Regions from separate parts of the Homo sapiens genome. Here region 2 is linked to region 1. A link means that fine-mapping ties the variant in region 1 to the expression of a gene that starts in the linked region. Tissue or cell type: whole blood. Region 1 holds a variant in brackets; the other region holds the start of a gene. All regions are shown on one strand. Distances are between the middles of the regions.

Region 1 (8,104 bases):
TTCAAAATCTATTTTCCTCCTCACACTTGACGCATATACTTTCTGCCCCCCAGCTCTTTCAGCTATACTCACTCTTTGTTGAGTCTCCCACAGTTACTATTGTTCCTGGCCCAGACTTCAATCCGGCCTCCCACATTATTCCGGATACCACACCTGATCCCCATGACTGTATCTCTCTGATCCACCTGACATTCACTCCATTTCCCCATATTTCCTTCTTTCCTGTTCCTCACCCTGATAACACTTGGTTTATTGATGGCAGTTCCACCAGGCCTAATCGCCACTCACCAGCAAAGGGAGGCTATGCTATAGTATCTTTCACATCTATCATTGAGGCTACCACTCTGACCCCCTCCACTACCTCTCAGCAAGCTAAACTCATTGCCTTAACTTGGGCCCTCATTCTTGCAAAAGGACTACGAGTCAATATTTATACTGACTCTAAATATGCCTTCCATATCCTGCACCACCATGCTGTTATATGGGCAGAAAGAGGTTTCCTCACTACTCAAGGGTCCTCCATCATTAATGCCTCTTTAATAAATACTCTTCTCAAGGCTGTTTTACTTCCAAAGGAAGCTGGAGTCATTCACTGCAAGGGCCATCAAAAGGCATCAGATCCCACTGCTCAGGGCAACGCTTATGCTGATAAGGTAGTTAAAGAAGCAGCTAGCTTTCCAACTTCTGTCCCTCACGGCCAGGACTGGACAGTACTTTGCCCTTCTCAGAATTAGAGCCTGTCCTCGAGATGCTACAGGGTACTGTCCATTTGAACTTTTATATGGACGCACTTTCTTGCTCAGCCCTGACCTCGTCCCAGACACCAGCCCTCTAGGCAACTATCTTCCAGTCCTCCAGCAGGCTAGACAGGAAATTCGCTAGGCTGCTCATCTTCTCTTGCCTACTCCAGATTCCCAGCCATATGAAGACACCCTAGCTGGATGATCAGTTCTTGTTAAGAATCTGACCCCTCAAACTCTACAACCTCCATGGACTGGACCCCACTTAGTCATCTATAGTACCCCAATGGCTGTTCGTCTGCAGGATGCCCCACCATTAGGTTCATCATTCCAGAATAAAGCTGTGCCCGTCAAACAGCCAGCCTGATCTCTCCTCTTCCTCCTGGAAGTCACAAGTGTTCACCCCTACTTTCCTTAAACTTATTTGCATTTCTGAAGAGCAGTAATAACCCTTATGAGCCTAATACAACCCTTCATTCTATTAGGTCTATTCATCCTTACCCTACTTTTTGCAATAGGGCTTTACGCAGTCACCCCCACTACTTGTTCTGTGCCCCAAAAACTTGTCATCCCTATCTTCTGTCTAGTCATACTCCTATTCACCATTCTCAACTACTTGTAAATGCCCTGCCCTTGTTTACACTGCTGGTTTACGCTTTTCCTCCAAACCATTGTAGCGGATATCTCCTGGTACTATCCCCAATCCGCCACTCTTGACTCCCTCTTAGAGTGGATAGATGAACTTTGCTGACAGGGCACCCTCCGATACTTTTACCCTGATGAAGTCCTATTCTTTACTTTTATACTCACTCTTATTCTCATTCCCATTCTTATGCCATCCTCTACCTCTCCCCAGCTATCTCCACCACACTATCAATCTCACTCACTCTCTCCTAGCTGTTTCTAAACCTTCTTTAACAAACAATTGCTGGCTTTGCATTTCTCTTTCCTCTAAAATCACAGAGGCCTCGACTTACTCACTGCTAAAAAAAAAAAAAAAGGGGGACTCTGGGCCAGGCGCAGTGGCTCATGCCTGCAATCCCAGCACTTTGGAACACTGAGGTGGGCAGATCACGAGGTCAGGAGATCGAGACCATCCTGGCTAACACAGTGAAATTCTGTCTCTACTAAGAATACAAAAACTTAGCTGGGCGTGGTGGCGGGTGCCTGTAGTCCCAGCTTCTTGGGAGGCTGAGGCAGGAGAATGGTGTGAACCCGGAAGGCGGAGCTTGCAGTGAGCCGAGATCACGCCACTGCACTCCAGCCTGGGCAACAAAGCAAGAGTCTGTCTCAAAAAACAAAAACAAAAACAACAAAAAACATTTTTTAAATGAAGAGTGTTGTTTTTACCTAAATCAATCTGGCCTGGTATATGACAACATAAAAAAACTCAAGGATAGAGCCCCAAAACTCGCCAACCAATCAAATAATTACGCTGAACCCCCTTGGACACTCTCTAATTGGATATCCTGGGTCCTCCCAATTCTTAGTCCTTTAATACCTGTTTTTCTCCTTCTCTTATTAGGACCTTGTGTCTTCCGTTTAGTTTCCCAATTCTTACAAAACCGCATCCAGGCCATCACCAATCATTCTATATGACAAATGCTCCTTCTAACAACCCCACAATATCACCCCCTACCCCAAAATCTTTCTTCAGTTTAATCTCTCCCACTGTAGGTTCCCATGCCACCCCTAATCCTGCTCGAAGCAGCCCAGAGAAACATTGCTCATTATCTCTCCACATCGCCCCTAAAAAATTTTCGCCACCCCAACACTTCACCACCATTTTGTTTTGTTTTTCTTATTAATATAAGAAGACAGGAATGTCAGGTCTCTAAGCCCAAGCTAAATCATCATATCCTGTGACCTGCATGTATACATCCAGATGGCCTGAAGCAACTGAAGATCCACAAAAGAACTGAAAATAGCCTTAACTGATGACATTCTACCATTGTGATTTGTTCCTGCCCCACCCTAACTGATAGGATATATTCTACCCCCCCACTTAAGAAGGTGCTTCGTAATATTCTCCCCGCCCTTGAGAATGTACTTTGTACACCTATCCCAAACCTATAAGAACTAATGATAATCCTGCCACCCTTTGCTGACTCCTTTTTCAGACTCAGCCCACCTGCACCCAGGTGAAATAAACAGCCTTGTTACTCACACAAAGCCTGTTGGTGGACTCTTCACATGGAAGCACGTGACATAATCCACCCCTTGTTTAGCATATAATCAAGAAATTTTAAAAAATTAAAACGGCAACCAGTAGCCCTCAGGGCTGCTCTGTCTATGGAGTAGCCATTCTTTATTACTTTACTTTCTTAATAAATTTGCCTTTACTTTACTCTATAGATTCGCTTTGAATTCTTTCTTGCTCAAGATCCAAGAACCCTCTCTTGGAGTCTGGCTCGGGACCCCTTTCCGGTAACAATTTTTGGAACAAAACCCAAACCTCTGAGGATTGCATGAAAAGATCTTTATAAATAGCTTCAGACTTCCTCTCCAGCCCCATTTCCCATCCCCACTGGAAGCTTCTCTCTCTTACCTCCCAATCCAGTCACACCAAACTTACCTTTTCACACACTGCCTATTCACTCCACCCCTGATCCTGGGTATATCTTTCCATATCCCAATTCCACCTTCACGTGATGAACTACAAACTCATCCTTCAAGACTCAGTTCAGGAGTTATCTTCAAAAAACTTTCTCTGGCCCCCTCCATACATTCTCACATAACTCAGTGCTTACTTCCATCAAGGCATGATAATGGTTCCATTATGATAATGGGATCATACCTGGGTTTAATTGTTCTTATCTGTCTTACCTCTACACCTAGACCACTAGCTTCTTGGAAGCAGGGACCAATGTGCTATCTCTGGCCCCAGCTCACCACAATATATGGCACACACCAGGCAGTCAGTAAACACACCCTAAACAAACAGTCCCCAGGCAGATTAAGCTCAGTGTGATTTTTCTGTGTACTCTCATTGACCACCTTTCATGCCGACAATTGAAACCATTTCCCTAGGAGCAGCCTACCTAGTAAGTCAACAAGCTACAGTAACAACTGCAGCTTGATTGCGATGTGTAAAAGTGCAAGTGTTCTATTTTTCTTGCAAATTCTGTGCTTTGTACTGCATATTGTGTAGAACCAAAACTCTCACATGCCTCACTAAATAGACAGTGTTGACCCTTGAGGTGCCTTCCTCAGCCCAAGCAGCAACATAGCCTAATATAGACCCACAAGCCCTTATCTGAAGCCTCTTGGGCCAAG[T/C]GCATTTTGGAATTCAGAATGTGGGAGATTTTAGGAAGATAACACATTACCTGTATCAAATACTACATAACAACCCCAGCAGGGTCTGAGGCAATACCCAGTTAATCAAACGCTTTCATATTTCCACAGTATAACTTACGAAGAGTAATACTTAGTGAGAGAAACAAAGCCTATAAATAGTCTCATGTCAGTTCAAGCAAGTCTTACTGCCAAATTGAGCTTGGGTCAAACTTACAAGAAAAATTTGTTCCAGCCTTCAGAGCTTTCAGGACTTCAGAACTGCTGATAAGGGATTGAGGATGGTAGTTAATGAGCATGGCCTGACAATACCTATATGCATTAGAAAGGACTGGAGTATATGTCTGTGTGCATAGATACCACACTTATAAATATTCACATATGCTGTATTTGTATGGACTCAGACACAGACACATGGAAAGTCTGGAAGGGTGCACAGCAAAATGTTAACAGTAGTCATTTCTCAGTGATTAGATTTCTTTTTCTTTTTGCTTATATGTATTTCCTATAGTTAGCTATAATAACATGTTTTTTGTGTTTTATATACATACACAGGCTTTGGAGTCAAAGACACGTTATATTGAGAAAGTTATCTAACTTCTCTAAGCATCTGCTTCCTCATGTGAATAAGATAACAGTGTCTGCCTCATACAATTGCTGTCTTCTTTTCCCATAGTTAACTTGAGGGTATCCCTCACTGCATGACCAAGAGGTGTTCTAGAAGCCAAATAAGATCTGTTGAAGGCCCAGACCTATAAAACAAAGATAGGCAGCAAGGCCTTGATTTTAACATCCGGTAGCCAGGCCTACCACTGAATTGGTGTCTGGGTTTTTCTTTTTCCTTTTTTTTTTTGAGATGGAGTCTCGCTCTGTCACCCAGGCTGGAGTTCAGTGGTGCAATCTTGGCTCACTACAATCTCTGCCTCCCAGGTTCAAGCGATTCTTGTGCCTTAGCCTCCCAAGTAGCTAGGATTACAGGCACCCACCACTACACCCAGCTTATTTTTGAACTTTTAGTAGAGATGGGGTTTTGCCATCTTGCCCAGTCTGGTCTCGAACTCCTGACCTCAAGTGATCCGCCCACCTCGACCTCCCAAAATGCTGAGATTACAGGCATGAGCCACTGCAGTCTGGGCTTTTTCTTTTTCTTTCATTTTTTTTTTTTTCTTTTTTTTGAGGCAGAGTTTTGCTCTTGTTGCCCAGGCTAGAGTGCAATGGCACGATCTCGGCTCACCACAACCTCTGCCTCCCCGGTTCAAGCGATTCTCTTGCCTCAGCCTCCCGAGTAGCTGGGATTACAGGCATGCGCCACTACGCCCGGCTAATTTTGTATTTTTAGTAGAGATGGGGTTTCTCCATGTTGGTCAGGCTGGTCTCGAACTCCCGACCTCAGGTGATCCGCCTGCCTCAGCCTCCCAAAGTGCTGGGATTACAGGCGTGAACCACTGCGTCCAGCCAGTCTGGGCTTTTTCTAAAACATGCCATCATACAAAGAAAAAATAAATAAATTCAAACCAAAATGGAAATACCCCATTTGTTTTGAGAATCATCTGAGAGGCAGCAACATTATTTCTTCATTCAATTGCTCCTTCTGCCTCCTTTTGCTCTATTTCCTCCTCGAGGCCCCTTAGTTATTTGTAGGTACTCCTCAAGCCCTAGACCAGTACTGTCCAATAGAACCTTTTTGATGATGAAAATATTCTATAACTGTGTTGTCCAATATATATTGAACACTTAAAATATGGCTTGAGACCGGGCCCAGTGGCTCATGCCTGTAATCCTAGCACTTTGGGAGGCCGAGGCAAGCAGATCAGGCAGTCAGGAGTTCGAGACCAGCCTGACCAACATGGTGAAACCCCGTCTCTACTAAAAATATAAAAATTAGCTGGGCATGGTGGTGGGCGCCGATAATCCCAGCTACTCGGGAGGCTGAGGCAGGAGAATTGCTTGAACCCGGGAGGCAGAGGTTGCAGTGAGCCGAGATTGTGCCACTGCACTCCTGCCTGGGTGACAAAGCAAGACTCCGTCTCGGGGGAAAAAAAAAAATAATTATATATATATATATATATATATATATATATTTGAGAAAGGGTCACGCTCTATCACTCAGGCTGAAGTGCAGTAGCGCGATCTCGGCTCACTGCAACCTCTGCCTCCTGAGTTCAAGCAATTCTCCTGCCTCAGCCTCCCGAGTAGCTGGGATTACAGGCATGCGCCACCACACCCGGATAATTTTTGTATTTTCAGTAGAGACATGGTTTCACCATGTTGGCCAGGCTGCTATCAAACTCCTGACCTCAAGCAATCAGCCTGCCTAGGCCTCCCAAAGTGCTGGGATTACAGGCATGAGCCACTGTGCCCAGCCAAAAAACTGAAGTTTTTAATTTGATTTTACCTAAATTAAGTTTAGCCTGTAATCCCAGCACTTTGGGAGTTCACGATGGGAGGATGGCTTGGGACCAGGAGTTCGAGACTAGCCTAGTCAATCAACATAGCAAGACCCCATCTCTTAAAAATAAATAAATAAATAAAATAGCCATACATGGCTAGTGACTAGCACATTGGACAGTGCAAATCTAGACCTTGTTCTTCCTCTTCTACAAGGAACCCACCAGCCATCCTGGTTGATTATGAATGAGGCTGTCCAGCCCTGTCTGAGCTCAGCACCTCCACCATCCCCTGGGCATTTCTACAAGACGTTCTGTATGCAGGGGGGACCCAGGTAAAACTGTAGTCTGATTCTGGACTCTTTCCCTGAGCTCTCCCGCCTATTACCAGCACCATCATTCTTCCTATCAGCCAGGTGTACAGTCTTGCCATCGGCTCACCTCTCTCCTTGGCCCCCCAGAGAGAGTTAGTCATCCATTTCTTCAGTCTCACAGCTGCCTTCCTCCAGGCTACCATCTCCTCACTTGCTACCTCAGGAGTCTCCCAACTAAGAGATCTTCCCACTTCTCCCTACCCATTTAGCCTCTGCACTTGGCCTGATTAAACTCTGATTTCATCTCTCTGCTCTAAATCTTCCTGTACAGGTTAAGACCCAAACTGGTTCAATTGGCATCTGACGCCCTTTGCAAATGGCTCTACTCTCCTTCATCAATCCATCACCCAAAGACAGCCTGATCTAAAAGGATAGATTCTTCACACATGCCATCCGCACTCCTGCCTTCATATGAAGTTACTCCTACTTTTTGGCCACCTCTCCTTCGAAGCCCAGCCTCAACTCCCACCTCCTCCTTCATGAAGCCCTCCCCAGCCACATAAGTTCTCAGTAGTCATTTCTCTGAATTTTGAGTGTCTTCCTGTCTATATAATGTGTCTGGCACTTTAAGAAACATTAGACTGTTTTGGAAAATGCCTTGGGCTTTGGAATAAAATAGAGCTGGTGATGTTACTGACTCCATCCATCACCTCTTATGAAACCTCAAACAAATTACTTAATTTGCTTCCTCATTTGTAAAATGGAAGTAATGCTACCATATTTACGGAGACCTCAAAAGGATAAACAAATACAATCTACATGGGTCACGAACCTAGCACAATGCCTGGTACACAGCAGACATTCAGGAACTGTTCCTCTCCCTCTTCTCCATCACTCCTAATCCCCCACTGCTTTAATAATGATGACTACCATTTATCAAGTACCTCTCATAGTTAGGTAATACGTTCAATGCTTCATGCATTGTGTCTGATTATTAGCCTTGTTTTACAAATAAGGAAATTGAGGCCTAGAGCAGATAGCAGACATGCTCAAGGACATAGAGCCAGTAAATGGTGCAGCTGACATTAAAACCCAGATCTGCTTGACTCCAAAGTCCCACAGCCTCCCATTTTGCATGCATGAGGACATCATCATCAATGAAACTATAAACTCCCAAGGGTAAGTACGATGTGAATAGAAGGTTTAAATCTGTTTGGATAACCAAGCAAAAGTATCAGCACAGTCTGTACAGGATATGTGGGAGTGTGGCTGTCACTGCTGGGTGGAGATCACGTTCTACCCTTCCTGAGCACCTATTAGGTCTAGGAGGAGGTGTCCCCTCCTATCTTCTCAGTCACCAGCCTTTGCA
Region 2 (8,104 bases), 31 kb after region 1:
GGCGCCTGTAGTCCCAGCTACTTGGGAGGCTGAGGCAGGAGAATGGCGTGAACCCGGGAGGTGGAGCTTGCAGTGAGCCGAGATCGCGCCACTGCACTCCAGCCTGGGCAACAGAGCGAGACTCTGTCTCAAACAAAAAAGAGAAAAGCGTGATTTGGTGTATGTAAAACTTCTAGCACAATGCTGGCGTGGGATAATCATTAACTCATTATTTGCTTCTATTATTATTATTGTTGTATAGCAAAGCAGACAGACATTAAATATGTCAATATAAAGAATTACATCACTGATTGAGAGAGGCTGGCAAAAATAAGAAAAAGGCAAGCCAGGTGTGGTGGCTCACGCCTATAATCCCAGCACTTTGGGAGGCCAAGGCAGGTGGATCATCTGAGGTCAGGAGTTCAAGACCAGCCTGGCCAACATGGCAAAACCCCGCCTCTGCAGAAAATACAAAAATTAGCTGGGCATGGTGGCGGGTGCCTGTAATCCCAGCTACTTGGGAAGCAGAGGCAGGGGAATCACTTGAACCTGGGAGGCGGAGGTTGCAGTGAGCCAAGATCATGCCACTGTACTCCAGCCTGGGTGACAGAGTGAGATTCTGTCAAGAAAGAGAGAGAGAGAGAGAGAGGAAGGGAGGGAGGGAGGGACAGACACATGTATCCATGGGATACAAAACAATTTCAGGATTTTTTGGGGGTTTTTTGTTTGTTTTTTGAGATGGAGTTTCACTCTTGTTGCCCAGGCTGGAGTGCAATGGTGCGATCTTGGCTCACGGCAACCTCCGCCTCCCAGGTTCAAGCAATTCTCCTGCCTCAGCCTCTCGAGTAGCTGGGATTACAGGCATGCACCACCATGCCTGGCTAATTTTGTATTTTTAGTAGAGACGGGGTTTCTCCATGTTGGTCAGGCTGGTCTTGAACTCCTGACCTCGTGATCTTGGCCCCCCCAAAGTGCTGGGATTACAGGCGTGAGCCACTGCCCTGGCCTAATTTCAGGGGTTTAACAAAGGCTGCCTGGGAAGAGAAATGCATGAATGGAAGCCCTGAAGGCTGAGTAGGAGTTGGCTAGGTGAAGAGATGTGAGGCTTGCAGGAGGAGAGGACAGCGTGTGCAGGGGCTCCGGGGTGAGAATGTGTGTTATCGGGGGAGACGGAAACAGCAGCAAGGAGGAGAGTGATGGGAGATGAGCCCACGGAGATGGGCTGTGCCAGATCCTACAGGGTCTTACTTGCTGCAATAAGTTTAGCAGGGGGTGCTCTTACTTTACACCATTCTTCTTTCTCTGAAAATCAGGCACCCCTGCCCCGAGTGGGACCCAGACCAAGAGGACCACTCACCAAGGATGTAGAGTTCACCATCTGGGGACACTGTGGGGAGGGAAATGAGAATGCCCTTAGCAATTGAGCTTACTCCCCCTTGCCCCCCCATCAAGGACAAAGATGAGCTGGGGGGCCCATAGGAGAGGATTCATACCACCCAGCCCCCTGTGGCACCTTCTTCCAGCGTAAAATCCCGCGAGACTGGCACTATCTGGTCCAGAGAGACATCGTCCCCGGTAATGGCCATCCTCCGGTGCGTATAGAGGAAGAGACTAAGGGCAGGAAGCAGAGGTGAGGATGGGGGCCCGCTGGCTGTCCCTCAGCCCTATCTTGGAGGTCTCGGGGTGCTCACACTCGCTCGTTGGTCCCTAACACTGTGCTGGTGGTGCCCTGGCTAGGCACACTCCTCATGCCATCTCTGTCTGTGGTGCCCATCAGAGACTGCAGTTTTATGGATGAGGTCATCAAACCAGAACTTTTCTCATCTGCAGGAGCCCCTGATTGTTAGTAAAACACAAACACATGTTTGATCTAACCATGGTGCATTCTAGCACTGTGTGTGACAGGAACAGTGCAACCTTAGCTACCCACTTCTCTCCCTGAACCTGTTTCCCATCTGTAAAACTGGGGTGATGGATCAGAAAATGTCTAAGGCCCCCTCCCTCCCAGCTCCTAGACCCTGAGTCACTTACCAGCTATGAGACCTTTGACAACTATTACTCTCTCTCTGCTTCTGTGTGGTATGTGGGTGTTACTAGACAACATTTATGGAGCACTTTCTTTTTTTTATTTATTATATTTTTTAAATTATTTGAAATAGAGATAGGGGTCTCACTATATTGCCCAGGCTGGTCTTGAACTCAAGCAGTCCTCCCAGCTCAGACTCCCAAAGTGTTGGGATTACAGGCATGAGCCACTGCACCCAGCCTTATTGAGCACTTTCTACACACCCCATGGTGTTCGTTTTTTTTTTCTTGTTTTTTTTTTTATAGAGACAGGGTCTTGCTGTGTTGCCCAGGCTGCAATCGTAGTTCACTGTAATCTCAAACTCCTCGGCTCATGTGATCCTCCCGCCTCAGCCTCCTGAGTAGCTGAGACTACAGGCATGCACCACAACACCCAGCTAATTTTCTTATTTTTTGTAGAGATGGAGCCGGGGAGCGGGAGGTGGGGCGGGGTAGGGGGGGCGGTCTCGCTATGTTGCCCAAGCTGGTCTCGAACTCCTAGGCTCAAGCAATCTTCCTGCCTCAGCCTCCCAAAGTGTTGGAATTACAAGCATGAGCTACTGCACCTGGCCTAACTCACTTTACTCTTTAATATGGACAAATCGAGGAGTAAAACAACTTGCTCAAGATCATGTGGTTCCACCAGGTGCGGTGGCTCATGCCTAAAATTCCAACACTTTGGGAGGCTGAAGTGGGAGAATGACCTGAGGCCAGGAGTTCCAGCATGCAGCTATGAGTGCACTACTGCACTCCAGCCTGGGTGACAGAAAGAGACCCCGTCTCTAAAAAAAAGATCATGTGAGGCTGGGCACGCTGGCTCATGCCTGTAATCCTAGCACTTTGGGAGGCCAAGGCAGGTGGATAACTTGAGGTCAGGACTTCAAGACCAGCCTGGCCAACGTGGTGAAACCCTGTCTTTACTAAAAATACAGAAATGAGCCAGGCATGGTGGCGGGCACCTCTGTAATACCAGCTCCTCAAGAGGCTGAAGCACGAGAATTGCTTGGACCTGGGACGCAGAGGTTGCAGTGAGCCAAGATCACCCCACTGCACTCCAGCCTGGGCAAAGACCAAGACTCCTTCTCAAAACAAACAAACAATAGATCATGTGGCTTGTTAGTAACAAAGCCTGGGTTTGAACCCAGGCATTTGGACCACGAGGCTCAAGATCTGGACTAGTATGTTAAACTGTCTCTTCTCAAGAAACTTCCTCCTTAGATCTTGAGGATTATGAGTTAGTACGTGTGCAGGGTTTAAAATATAGTGTTCAAAAAATATTAACTATCATTGTGATAATTATTCTAGGAGACTCAGACCCTGCCCTGGAGGGACAGTTGAAGTTCAGCTGGAGGGTGCAGTGATGAACAACCCCATGGCCCAGACAGGTGGGGACCAAGCCCCTCACTCACGCGTGTTCCTGGCCGCCGTGCTCCAGGCGGTAGCGCACGAGTCCCAGGAGGCGGCTCTGCCGGCTGTCCCCCTCACACAGCACACCTTGCACCGCCTGCGGCTCAGAGTCAAGGGAAGACAACCCAGAGGCGAGGCCTCTCCCCACCCAGGCTGTCCCACCTTCCCTCTGTTCCCCTGCCCCCCCAGATTCACTGTGTGGCCTTGGGTGAGCACTCAAACCATGTGCTGAACTAACAGACAAACAGGCTCTCTAAGCCTTCCTTATCTATGAAATGAGGATAATAATCCCCAACTTCATAGGGAGTTAGGAGGATAACTGCGTATTTAAAGCATTTGGCTGAGAGTCCAGGACTCAGTAAGTACTTAGTAAATACTGATTTCCTTCTCCCCTGATGGTTCAGAGGGGCAGGAGAGGGGATAGACACCTCGACACCTTCCATTCCTCTTCCCAAGGCCAGGGCAGGCTCAGGGCCGCAGTTAGCACAGGAAGGATATGATGACGCAGTATTCCCCCTCAGCCAGCGTCTCCTGGATTGCCACAGACTGGTCCATGCTGGCCCCTGCTGAGCGCACACACCCTGTGGGAGGGGAGATAGGAGCCCCGCTTTGGTCAACAAGTTACGCATGGGGTGGTGGAGCTGCCTCAGAGGGGTTGGGGGCAGGAGGGAGGGGCCTTTGCAGAGGGAGATGGTACCGGGGAGGCCTGATCCTCCTCCTCCTCCTCTTTGTCCTCCCTAGAATAGGCCTTTCAGTTTTTAGGGATAGGGGTCCAGTCCCTTTGCCCCGCTGGGATCTACAGTTTGCTATACTGCCTTTGTCTGGGAGGGCATCCAGTTGCTCTTGAGTGTGGTCTATCCTTGTTGGAAGTGGGGTACGTGGATTGGAGAAGGGGACCTAGTCCCTTTGCTCCTAGGACATGGCTCTTCCTCTCTTTTGGGGACAGTTTTTGTTCTGCTAGCGCCTCTCTGGGAGGTGTCAGTGGTGTGTCCATGTGGGGTTCAGGGAACATCCCCTTACTGTCATTCAGGAGGGTCCCATTCCTCTTTCCTTGGAGACAGGAAGTGTCCCATTGCTGCTTGCCCTTCACCCCCGCCCCAGCAGGCCCATTGCATCAGCTGCAGGCCGGGGGTTGGGGGGTGTCCCAGCCCTCAGCTTGCCCACTCCCTCCTGCCCAGCCCTGCCCTGGCTTTCCTGCTCTGCTCCCACCCACAGCTCCCTGACATTGTCACCTACCTCCTGAGCTGTCACCACAGGGCGCACGGGACTCCGCTGCCCCAGGTTCCGGGACAGTGACTACATTTCCCAACAGCCCCTGCGCCACATGGTGGTCAGTCAGCCTGCAAGTCCCAGCATGCCCGAGTCAATCGTGGGGTGGGGAGTCTCTCCATCCGTGTTAACCCCTTAGGCCCTGGGGTACACTGGGCTTCCTATACCAGAAAGGTTTTCTAATGATTGCCCTCACTCCCATCCCCAGCCCTCTAGGTCATGGGGCCAGAGCTTCCCACCCAGAAGGAAGATGGTCACATTTTATCTTAGGGGAAGAATATAATGCATTTTTATTTTCTCCTTAGTTCCATCCTCAGCTCTTCTCACTCCAGGGTAGACAACCCGGACCTCTACTGAAACTCTTCCCCTAAAATAACTACCTTCTCCTGGTTTAATGGAGGGAGAACCAGACTATGAAGAACCATTATGTCCATTTTCCAGGTGGAGAAACTGAGCCTTGGATAGGTTAAGCAGTTTGACATTAAGTCCTGCAGCTAGCAGGTGGCAACACTGGGACTCCACTGAAAGTCTGACTGCAACTCCTGGGCCATTTATACCGCTACACACTGCCCTATTTCCTCCCTTAGCCCCACCCAGCCCTCCTGCCACACAGGGCTGTTTGAGGCTACTGGGTGTGAACGCACTTTATAAAGGGTATGACACTGTTCCTGTCCGGCAACGTCCTTCCCCTGATCCGCCTGGCTTTGTGACCTTGGCCAAGACCTTTCTTCCCTTGGGACTCAATTTCCCCATCTAAGATAAGGAGGTTACCCAAGATGGACAAAAAGAGCCAGCACAGGGACTGGGCACAGTGGCTCATGTCTGTAATCCCGGCACTTTGGAAGGCCAAGGAGGGAGGATCGCTTGAGGCCAGGAGTTTGAGACCCCATCTCTAAAAAAAAATTTTTTTAAATTTAGCCGGGTATGGTGGTGCATGCCTGTAGTCCCAGCTACTTGGGAGGCTGAGGTGGGAGGATTGCTTGAGCCCAGGAGTTCAAGGCTGCAGTGAGCTGTGATTGCTCACCCAGCTCAGATAAGGAATGCTAGGATCATTCTCACTTGGCCTATTGGCTGTTTAATTAAGCTGTAAGCTCCCGTTGGACAGGACTATGCCTTTTCATCAACATACCAGCAGTTTCTGGCACACAGTTATCTATGGAGTTAGTGAATTACTTTCTGAACTATTTTAATAAATACACCTTCTCTCAAGCTTTGGCCCAAACTGAAGGAATGGGCCTTCAGTGCTGGGGAGGGGGTGACTGTTGTGACTTGTGAACAGTTTCCCTTCCTCTTTCCCCAAGTGAAGTGGCCATCCTAATGACCAGTTCAACTTTGCATATGTAAACCCCTTCCAGAAACAGTCGTTGCCTTCTTCTCAATCCATTTCTTTTCCTGGAAACATCCACAGCACAAATGGAGCTCAAGTTTATTTGAATTCAGTGTCTAAGTCATGTGGACGATGAGGGGAAAGGGGATTGACTCAGACCCTTAGGATCAAGGGGTGGGGTCACTGCAGGGAAGCAGAGGAACCCCAATTCCAGCCCTGCTCTAGTGTCAAAGCCTGGCGAGGAGGGTCTGGGCAAAGTAGATGGGGCTGTGTGCTTTTTATGATGAAGAAACTGTCCCTGCAGGATTTGGGGGTCCTCCCACTGGGTGGGGGTCAGGCAGGAGGTTTTCTGTTTTTCCAGACAAACCCTATCCTCTCCCTGAGATTAGGGCTGAGGGCCTGCCCCCTTGGGGGGTTCCATGGTCAGGCCTAGGCCCTAGAAGGGGAGAAGTGAGGAGCCTTAAGCCCAGAGCTGTGGGCTTGATAAAGGCCTTTTACTAAAGATGCAACTACAGGAATCAGAGCTGGAGGGGGACCTGAAGGCTTGTAGATCCTACAGGGTCTTCTTGACTGCTGCTCCCAGATTCTGCTGGGCCCAGCTAGGGGAGCAGGAATAGGAGCAGAGCAGAGTGGAGGAGAAGTAGCATAGCCACAGCCAGGGCCCAGTGCAGGGGGTTTCTGGTGGCCCCAGGAGCTGCCTGGTTGAAGTGAAGTTTCCCATCCAGCTGAAGGCAGCTGCCTGAGGTTGAGGCTTGACAGCACTCCTGGTAGCAGGGTGGGGCCACAGCCCCATGACACTGGGAGGTCCCTGCTTCACAGGCCTGGCTGCAGCCTGCAATGTAACCTGAGCTGGAGCATTTCAGCTGCAAGAAGAGGTGGGACCATTCATCTTCCCCTTGCCCCTCTTCCCCACTCAAAGGCAGAAAGTGTTAAGTGGGTCATGGGTTGAGCTCAACCTCCTTGGACCCCTAGCTTCCTGCCCACAAGATCAGTGAGTTCCTAGTGAACATACAGGGTGGTCAGAAAAAAAGGGGCACATCGTGGAGGTATGGAAAATTCCAGTTGCTGCCTTTGGTGTTGGCATCATGCAGAGCTGAGGGGGTCAAGCTTGCTAGACCCCACGGCTGCTCCCAGCAGGTCTAGCTCCAGCCAGATTCTACTGCTGAGCTACCCACTCCAGGTAGAAGGAGAAAGCCATGCAGCTCTGAGGGAGGAGAGCTCCCTAATTCTTGGAGCATCGCAGGGCTCACCTCACAGAAGTCCAAGCCCTCAGGGCACATGGCCACAGCTTTCGGCCCTTTGAAACAGTCACCACCTTGGCAGGAGAAAGTAGCACAGATTTTCTTCTGGAAGAGAAAGCAGGAGGAGGTTTGGGAGCTCTGTGCAGACTGAACAGGTGGTAAATGCTGGACAGAGGCAAGGCTGGAGCCCTATCATGCCTGTGTCACTGGCCCCATCCACCACACGCTGTCCATTCCTGCCTCCACTTCCTAGAGGAGGCAGGTGAGAATGAGACACATTTCCCTGGAGGGCTGGCAAGGTGGTGGTCACCAGGGGTGGAATGGAATGTAGCTTGTCCTCTGGGATCGTCGGGTGGGCTAGGCCTAGGAGCAGAGCAGGACTGCCTGGGGAAGTGCTGTGACACCTCTGTAAAGCCCTGACCCCCTGCCTTGCCCCCAGGGAGAGCATGATGTGTGTGGGCAGCTCACAACCTGACATCTCCCCCACCACGGCCTAGATGAGCACAGGTGCTTGCCCCAGGCCTCTTTGTAGCTTGTTGGGGAGGGGAGTGCTGGATGGGCTGGACTGGGGAATGGTGGGGATGTTAGGAGTGGGGAATCTGAGAGGGGGTGGGGCACCAAAGGTAGAAAGCTCAGACTTGGGGAGCTAATGAGGAAGGCAGAGTTTTTTTTTTTGTTTTTTTTTTTTGTGGTGAGGTGGAGTCTCTCTCTGTCGCCCAGGCTGGAGTGCAGTGGTGAGATCTTGGCTCAGTGCAAGCTCCGCCTCCCAGGTTCATGCCATTCTCCTGCCTCAGCCTACAGAGTAGCTGGGACTACA

The links. PIP is the estimated chance that this variant, and not a neighbour inherited with it, causes the effect.
Region 2: it holds the start of INPP5B, and the variant in region 1 is fine-mapped to the expression of INPP5B in whole blood (TOPMed, PIP above 0.99).

What each region holds. Positions count from the first base shown.
Region 1 is chr1:37,911,225-37,919,328 of GRCh38, forward strand. All of the region lies in intron 7 of INPP5B (inositol polyphosphate-5-phosphatase B), which reads right to left. It overlaps LOC124904043 (a long non-coding RNA gene), which reads left to right. Exons shown (of 4, transcript XR_007065876.1): 3 at 6,639-6,756; 4 at 7,067-7,432. Among named protein-coding and RNA genes, the nearest start is that of INPP5B, 32 kb to the right of the region's middle. The variant T/C (reference allele first, on the strand shown) is at 4,017.
Region 2 is chr1:37,942,304-37,950,407 of GRCh38, forward strand. INPP5B (inositol polyphosphate-5-phosphatase B) reads right to left here and starts at 4,750. Exons shown (of 24, transcript NM_005540.3): 1 at 4,687-4,750; 2 at 3,949-4,031; 3 at 3,453-3,547; 4 at 1,493-1,590; 5 at 1,337-1,366. The coding sequence starts at 4,005. It overlaps LOC105378651 (a long non-coding RNA gene), which reads left to right. Exons shown (of 5, transcript XR_001737983.3): 4 at 1,432-1,609; 5 at 2,976-3,324. RefSeq lists enhancers at 4,572-5,101, 4,679-4,918, 6,308-6,981.